Linked DNA regions of Homo sapiens. The protein of the gene in region 2 interacts with the protein of the main gene of each other region in a pairwise test. Each region holds a gene or a part of one and is shown on either strand. Other genes may lie near its edges.

Region 1 (2,758 bases), on a different chromosome or scaffold from region 2:
ACCTGATTCATAAGTCTGTCCTTTGATTTATCACTCTGCATTAATATATGTTATGTGCCTTTCTCTCTCAAACTGGATAAGGAGACTTTCTGGAAGAACAGAGCATCAGGAGAAAAAGTCTTGCCTATCAATAGAAAGTGCTGGTTCAAACAATTAATACAGGCAAGGATTCAATCCATACTGGTCAATTTAATTGCCTTCTACCAGTTCCTCTCTATGAACATATGAACATAAACACATATACACACCACATTTTCTAAAAGATTACAACTATTTATCCAGAAACAAAAAGACAAAGCAAACCCAGCAAAAACATGAAAACAAACAAATGGATATATTTTGTGGTTGGGACATTTCACTGAAGGTGACTGTGAAATAATATTTATCTACCAATACACTCATAATTATTTTAAATTTTATTCAGGGTATCTCACTTTCTCTGTACCCAAATTCCTTGGTGTCTCTTCTCTCCTCCCTAGTGGCTGCTTCATCATGAATGCTAAGAGAGACCCTCCAAACTCCAACTGGTTAGTGATCTGTCTTGAAGAAAATCCTCAGCACTGTCTCCCTAATATGTTTGGTTCTGACCCCATAGATTACAGGATTGAGGGTGGGAGGAACAACCACATATAGATTAGCCAAGAAAATGTGGATATATTGGGGAATATCATGGCCAAAGCAGTGTGTAAAGAAAGAGAAAAATGCTGGTGTAGAAAAGGCTAAGATAACACCAATGTGAGAGCCACAGGTGTTGAGAGCTTTGAGTCGAGCTTCCCAGGAGGGCAGGCAGAAGACAGCATAGAGGATCCTGATATGGGAGAGAATAATAAGGAGCACATCCAATAACAAGAGAGAAATACTGCCAAGACCAAACATAATGTTGACTTTGATGCTGGCACAGGCCAGACGGGCAATGCCCATGTGCTCACAGTAAGTATGAGGGATGATACGATGTCCACAGAAGGGCAACCTTAAGAGGAGAAACACCAGTGGAATGACCATGTACAAGCTCCTCAGGACAGCAATGCCTGCAATGAGGCTGATGATTTTGCTGGTGAGGATCATGGTGTACCAAAGAGGTTTGCAAATGGCAATGTAGCGGTCAAAGGCCATGGCCACCAATACGATGCTCTCCATGACAGTGAAGAAATGGATGAAGAACATCTGAGAAAGGTAGCCTCCAAAAGATATTTCCTTGATATTGAACCAGAAGATGCCCAGCATTTTGGGAATGGTGGCCGTAGACAAGCTCAGGTCAATGGAATCCAACATGGCCAGGCAGTAGTACATGGGCTCATGGAGACTCTGCTCAGTTTGGATCACAAAGAAGATAGCAGCATTTCCCAGGAGTGCAATAAGATACACAGAGAAAAAAGGGAATCCAATCCAGATGTGCACATCTTCTAGCCCTGGGATACCCAGCAGTAGGAATGAAGAAGTATGGAACTGGGTGTCGTTAGCTATAGGCATTCTTTCTGTCACAAAAAGCTGTTGTGTGTATCAGTGACAATTATTGACTTTCCATTAGTGATTCTTGCTCCACTTCTCACTTTATCCTGATTCCTGGTAAAATAAAAAATAGCATTGTACTCTTCTTGGTTCCTTTCTGAAAAAGAGTAAAATACCTCTTACTCTGCTAGGGTCATATGAGCATGAAACAGAATCAATAATTAAATCAGCTTCACCTGATTGCCACTTTTCCTACCAGAATTTATTACACATGAGGAATAAAGTGGGGAGAAACCTCTATCTGCCTGACAGAAATTTATAATGAAGAGTCTATGCAGAAACTAATTTTAAAAATAAGATTTCAGAACCTATGAATCTGATCGTTTTACACTCATTTTTCTTAACTTTCAGGCTGATTTTTATCTGTAATCTCTGTTAATCCCTTACTAGAGATCCTGCTAACAATAAAGTTTATATTTGTGCACTGAGTGTGTGTTTGTGTGTATCTATGCATTTCTACATGAATTGTAGAGTACTAGTGGGTTTACTTTTAGAGCAGAGAGAAAAAGCCTATATTTACACATACATGTAATATTTATTATTTATTTCTTTTTTTATTATTATGCTTTAAATTTTTGGATACATGTACAGAATGTGCAGGTTTGTTACACAGGTATCCACGTGCCATGATGGTTTGCTGCACCCATCAGCCCGTCATCTACATTAGGTTGTTCTCCTAATGCTATCCCACCCTTAGCCCCCAAACCCCCGACAGGCCCCAGTGTGTGTTGTTCCCCTCCCTGTGTCCATGTATTCTTATTGTTCAACCCCTACTTATGAGTAAGAACATTCATTGTTTGGTTTTCTGTTCTTGTGATAGTTTGCTGAGAATGATGGTTTCCAGCTTCATCCATGTCCCTGCAAAGGACATGAACTCATCCTTTTTTATAAGTGCATAGTATTCCATGGTATATATGTGCCACATTTTCTTTATCCACTCTATTATTCACAGGCATTTGGGTTGGTTTCAAGTCTTTGAAAAGCGTATATTTTTTATATACCACTTAAGAGTTCTCAATTTTAAATGTTAATCAAGTTAATAAATTGAAAACCAGACAGCAAAAAATTTTAATGTGATGTTTCAGAAAATAAACAACTCCTTGATCATCACAATTTCTTTTGCAAAAAGAATACTGTATCCATCATTTTTGGAAATTGGGTAAAGAAAATTAAAGGAAGATAATTAATGAAAAGTATTTTGCACTTAAAGCTAAATATGGAATAAAAGATTAATTTAGATAAATACACC
Region 2 (5,580 bases):
TAAAGAAGAATAGAGTTGAGGACAGTGCTGCCCTGTTTATGCCCAAAAATTACCCTAAACTGAAAGTTGCTTTGTGTTCCTTCACTCCCCTCTGCTGGTAAATTTTAATATAGTTCTTAATTTTTTTAAGTCAAATTGATAGAAATATCAATTGTGTTTTTAAAACTGTAAGAAAAAATAATGTTGAACATCACAAAAATGTACTCAATCTTTCCCAAAACCCATTTCTTTCCAGTTAGTTTTCATAACTGTAGGTTCTTAAAAAAAAAAAAAATGAACACTTTGGCCGGGTGCGATGGCTCATGCCTGTAATCCCAGCACTTTGGGAGGCCGAGGCGGGTGGATCACGAGGTCAGGAGATCGAGACCATCCTGACTAACATGGTGAAACCCCGTCTCTACTAAGCCAAAATACAAAAAATTAGCCAGGCGTGGTGGCGGGCGCCTGTAGTCCCAGCTACTCGGGAGGTTGAGGCAGGAGAATGTTGTGAACCCGGGAGGCGGAGCTTGCAGTGAGCCAAGATCACGCCACTGCACTCCAGCGTGGGTGACAGAGCAAGACTCCGTCTCAAAAAAAAAAAAAAAAAAAATGAACATGTCATCCATACTTCTAAGGTGTTGTAAAGATGTGTAAAGTTTTCACTTTTTGCATCATATTCACATGTGGCTATATGCCCTTTTCTCTTCAAAGTTTTCTTTATCTTGATTACTTATCAGAGGCTTGACTGTTTTATTATCTCAGTCTTTTGAAAGAATCCTCCTTCAGTTTTATTTTTTAAATCTAGTGGTTTTTCTTTTTCCTTTTTCCTTATGTCTTAATTATTTCCCCCTTTTTGTTTGTTTTGCTTTTCCCAGTTTAGTGGATCAATGTAATTTAAATTGCTTTTTAAACAAACATGTAAGGGTATACATTTTCGTTGGGTGCTGTTTGACTTTGTTGCACAAGTTTTAAAATCTATTTTTTAATAGTTTGTATTTTCTAAATTATTTTATTACAACTTTTGTTCACATTGCTCTTACTATTAATTTTTTATTTTTATTAATTAATTAATTAATTTATTTATTTATTGAGATGGAGTCTTGCTCTGTAGCCAGGCTGGAGTGCAGCGGCATGATCTTGGCTCACTGCAAGCTCCACCTCGGGGGTTCATGTCATTCTCCTGCCTCAGCCTCCCAAGTAGCTGAGACTACAGTTGCCTGCCACCACATCCGGCCTTTTTTGTATTTTTAGTAGAGATGGGATTTCACCGTGTTAGCCAGGATGGTCTCGATCTCCTGACCTCATGATCCACCCACCTTGGGCTCTCAAAGTCCTGGAATTACAGGCATGAGCCACTGCACCCGGCCCAAAAGCTTTGTGTTTTTACAGATATTAGACATGTTTCTTGTTTAAGAAAAAAAAATCTTAATGAAAACGTAGGAGAATAAAAGAAACATTTTTCCAAAAAAGAGAAATCATTGTGATTATTTTATCTTATTAGAATGTTGGATAATATAGTCTGCTTCATTAATCATCAAGCATGCTATGCATTTTCCATTTTTATAGGATCTGTATCTCAGTTAAGGTAATACTGGTAATTTTTGTACTGTAATCAAAGATGAAGAATATAGGCCAAAATCATAGACCTTGCATAGAAGCTGGATAATGAAGACAGCTATGGAGAAAAACATAGATACACACACACGGACACACATATATATAAAGTATACACACATATATTTTTTAAAGTTTTAAAGCTTTTAAAGCAAAAGCCGGCCCCTCTTCTCTTCCAGAGTGGGAGGCCTCTCCCCTCTCTTAGAGTGGGTGGGGAGAGCGGTTGCCATGGGCAGCTTTCCTTGTGAGCCACAGGTCCCTCTGGACACACTGCTTTCTGGCCACGCCCCCTTTCCTTTTCATCTTTCTCATTGACCAATGGGCTTGGAGCATTAAGGCCACGCCCCTATTCCGCATTCTACTGGGGCCCTGGTTACGCCTCCTCTGGCTCAGTCACACAGCTGCCTGGTAGGTGACTGGAGGCCTTGATCGGTTCTCATTGAGATTTTGCTGCTGTGACCCCAACCCTGCCTCCCTCCCCACCCTGCGATGGCAGAAGAAACTCAACACAACAAATTGGCTGCAGCCAAGAAAAAGGTAAAAACGCACTAGGTCATAGCCCCTCAACCCAGCCACAGATCCCCTCTGATGACAAGACCCCTGCCAGAGTCTATACGACTCCTGAGGCACACTGGACTCGTCCCCCCTACCCCGGTGCCTCTGGGCTACCCCCACCAAAGTTTTGTCAGTCAGCCCCACCCCTTCAGCAAGCAGCCCAGTCCTTGCCCTCGCCAATCACCCCAGGGTGACTTTGGGTGGGTGAGTCCTGGGGCTTCCCGCTCCATTACTGGGCCCTCATCTCCTGCCGCCCCAAGCTTGATCTCCCTGGGCTCTTTGGGCTCTCATCTCCAAGGAGCCAGGCCCCACCCTCGCCAGTCATCCCTGGGTGACTTTGGACTGGTGACTCCTGGGACTCCCTGCTGCAGACTGTGCCCTCCCCTCCTGCTGCCTCAAGGTCGACCTCCCTGGGTTCTTTGTGCTGGCGTCTCCAAGGAGCTGGGTCCCAACCCTGTGCTTCCCTCCCCCATCGTGGAGCAGCGACTTGGACATGGTGCTGACATGGTCCCTCCCCCCGACCAGGAGGAGTGGAATGTTGTGATGTCACAGTCCACCTAGTAACTGCCGTTACTGCAAGACTGGCCTTTGATCTTACGACCCAGTCCCCTAAGCGTTCTCACCCCGTTTCTGGTTCCTCTGGTCACAGCACAAATTTCCAGCTGGAAGGGGAATGGAGACTATGGGACCTAGGAGGAAGAGGTTCCAGGCTGCCTCACTCCCTTACAGATGTTGACGGTGGGAAAAGCCTACACTTCCCCCATGAACTCAAAACGTTGACAGTATCTCTGGGTGGCAATGAGAGAATGGGTTTGGTTTGGTTTTCTCCCAGGCTTCTACTTTCCAGAGAGATTTTAACATTTTTTTCTGAGTTCTCCACCTCATATTCTAATTCTCCATGGTTCTGGGACCAGACTCTCCTTCAGTCAGTGGTCTCTGAAGTGACATTTGCTCATCTTCTGTGGAATAGATCTTGGGAAACTGAACTTGACACCTTGAATCTTCCTCATATTATCTCAACCTTGGGTACTTTGAGTGCCACAGGATAAATGTGGGACATCTTTCTGAAGCATCAGTTTCCCTTGATTCTCTTGAGATCAAGAGAAAAAACATGAATGTACTTAGGGATGACAGTCACATAGGTTTCTAAGAGTATACCAGACCTCTCTCTGAAATGAGGCTTGGGTTATCCTCTTTCTGATAAATTCTGATTTAAGAGAAAGGCTGCCTTCTGCCATGAGGACACATTGATATAAGAGTTTGAGAGGTACTGGTGCACTTCTTCACACTAACAGACGTGTGAGGATGTATGACTCTAAACCACATGGCATACAGTTCCTGCCTACTTAATGTTTACTTTTCTACCTCTGCCTCTGGTTTTGGTCCCTGGCAGCTGCTGATTCTTGGCAAAACCTCAGAGCTTGGAGTCAGAAGACTGAGTTTCAAAGTTCCAGTATTGCCTTTTTCTTTTTTTTTTTTCTAGCCATGATATCAATCCTTCTCAGTCACTAAATGAGTGTGACAACACCTTGTACAGTTGTTGGTGTCATTAAATCAGATGGTGTGTAAGTGTATTTTGTAAAAACTGTAAAGGAGGATGTGGCTGTAGGGGCTGATGGTTCTCATGAGTATTACTGCTCTTCTTTCCAACAGTTAAAAGAATATTGGCAGAAAAACAGCCCTAGAGTTCCAGCAGGAGCGAACAGGAACAGGAAAACAAATGGCAGTATCCCTGAGAAAGCCACTTCTGGTGGTTGCCAGCCACCTAGGGATGTGAGTCTTGGCTGACCAGGCTTCTGGGGACAGGGGGCCCAAGGGGCAATAGAGGGTAATTCTTAAGATTGTGGATGGACTGCTGGGTACTGGTTAAGAATTCTGGCTTTAGCCGGGTGTGGTGGCCCACGCCTGTAATCCTAGCACTTTGGGAGGCCAAGGCAGGCGGATCATGAGGTCAGGAGATCGAGACCATCCTGGTTAACACGGTGAAACCCTGTCTCTACTAAAAATACAAAACATTAGCCAAGCGTGGTGGCGTGTGCCTGTAGTCCCAGCTACTCAGAAGGCTGAGGCAAGAGAATGGTGTGAACCTGGGAGGTGGAGCTTGCAGTAGCCAAGATTATGCCACTGCACTCCAGCCTGGTGACAGAGCAAGACTCTGTCTCAAAGAAAAAAAAAAAAAAAGGAATTCTGGGTTTGAATCCTGCCTCTCCATCTGCTCTGCTAGGGATATGATTTAGGGCAAGTTGCTAGACCTCATCGGGCCTCTCTTTTCACATCTGTATAATAGAGGTGTTATTGTTTCACTTCCATTTGTGAAGTTTAAATGAGATTTGTTATTGTTGTTTTTATGTTAATCCCTAGTACATGGCCTGCTGTAAACACTCAGGACACCCAGGATATGGTTTGATTTTCCTCATCCCCAGTCTCAGGGGGAAACCAGGACAATGAGAACAGCCACTTGCCATCAGGAGTCACTGAAGGGGCCCCAGGATGGGATGGTGGGGAGATAAGAACCATGAGAGAAGTTGGCACAAAGGAGTTATGGGACAAAAGGTCCAAGATAGGCAGAAAAGAAAATGTTGCCAGTTGATGGGGAAGAAAGGAAGTCAGAGGGCTCAGACACTGTGGGGGACAGAACATCTCCATGTGCACTCTCATCTCTTGTAGTCAGCAACAGGTTTCCACAGGGAAGGCCCTACATCATCTGCTACCCTGAAAGATCTGGAGGTAAGAGGCTCTGGGCGGAGGTGCAGTGACCCTTCGGGTCAACCCTCCAACCTCCTCCTCCAGGTGGGACTGGGTGCCCCTCTGCCAGCTGAGACAGCCTACACACCCCAGCCCTAATGATTGTTCTCTCTACCTCTCCCCCCACTCCTGCTCCACCTCCTCCTCTCTGCATGCACCTCAGAGCCCGTGCCAAGAACGAGCAGTAGTCCTGGATTCAAGGTCCGTAGAAATCAGTCAACTGAAGAACACCATCAAATCTCTGGTAAGAGTCCACTGGGGTCCCCTGATTCCACGCTGCCAATCCTGGGCTCCAGTTTCCCCTTGGGGCCCTGAAGAAAGGGGCTGGGGGTCCCTGGTGCCTGGGACAAATAGGGAGCTTGGGTGCCCAGGCCTCACCTGGAGGGACCCCAGAGCATGCAGCATGGCTCTTCTTTTGCTGCCCTCTTTGCCGACTCTCTCCTCTCCAGACACCCCTGCTCGAGTCCTTGCTACACACGCCCTGGGGTTGTTGCCTCTTGGGGAAGTGCTAGCCTGACTGGTTGTCAAGGGCCCCGTATTTCTGCCATGACTCAGTCCCTAATTTGCTCTTTGATTCTGGACAAGCCACCTCTCCTTTTTGGGCTCGTGTTTCCAGAGGAGGTAGTGAGTATCAAAGGTCTCTGTTAGCTCTCGAGTCTGAGATTTAAAGGCCCCCTAGAACGGAAA

Evidence for each region.
Region 1: the proteins of GOLGA8K (region 2) and OR52E6 interact in a two-hybrid assay, tested with the Homo sapiens proteins (one large-scale study listed by BioGRID).

Annotation. Positions count from the first base shown.
Region 1 is NC_000011.10:5,840,428-5,843,185, forward strand, and holds OR52E6 (olfactory receptor 52E6), read right to left. Parts: upstream 1,471-2,758; coding exon 529-1,470; 3' UTR 501-528; downstream 1-500. UniProt on the Homo sapiens protein: Odorant receptor.
Region 2 is NC_000015.10:32,399,697-32,405,276, reverse strand, and holds the start of GOLGA8K (golgin subfamily A member 8K), read left to right. Parts: upstream 1-1,984; 5' UTR 1,985-2,082; coding exon 2,083-2,130; intron 2,131-3,801; coding exon 3,802-3,921; intron 3,922-4,316; exon of another isoform or gene 4,317-4,815; coding exon 4,816-4,875; exon of another isoform or gene 4,876-5,056; coding exon 5,057-5,137; exon of another isoform or gene 5,138-5,580.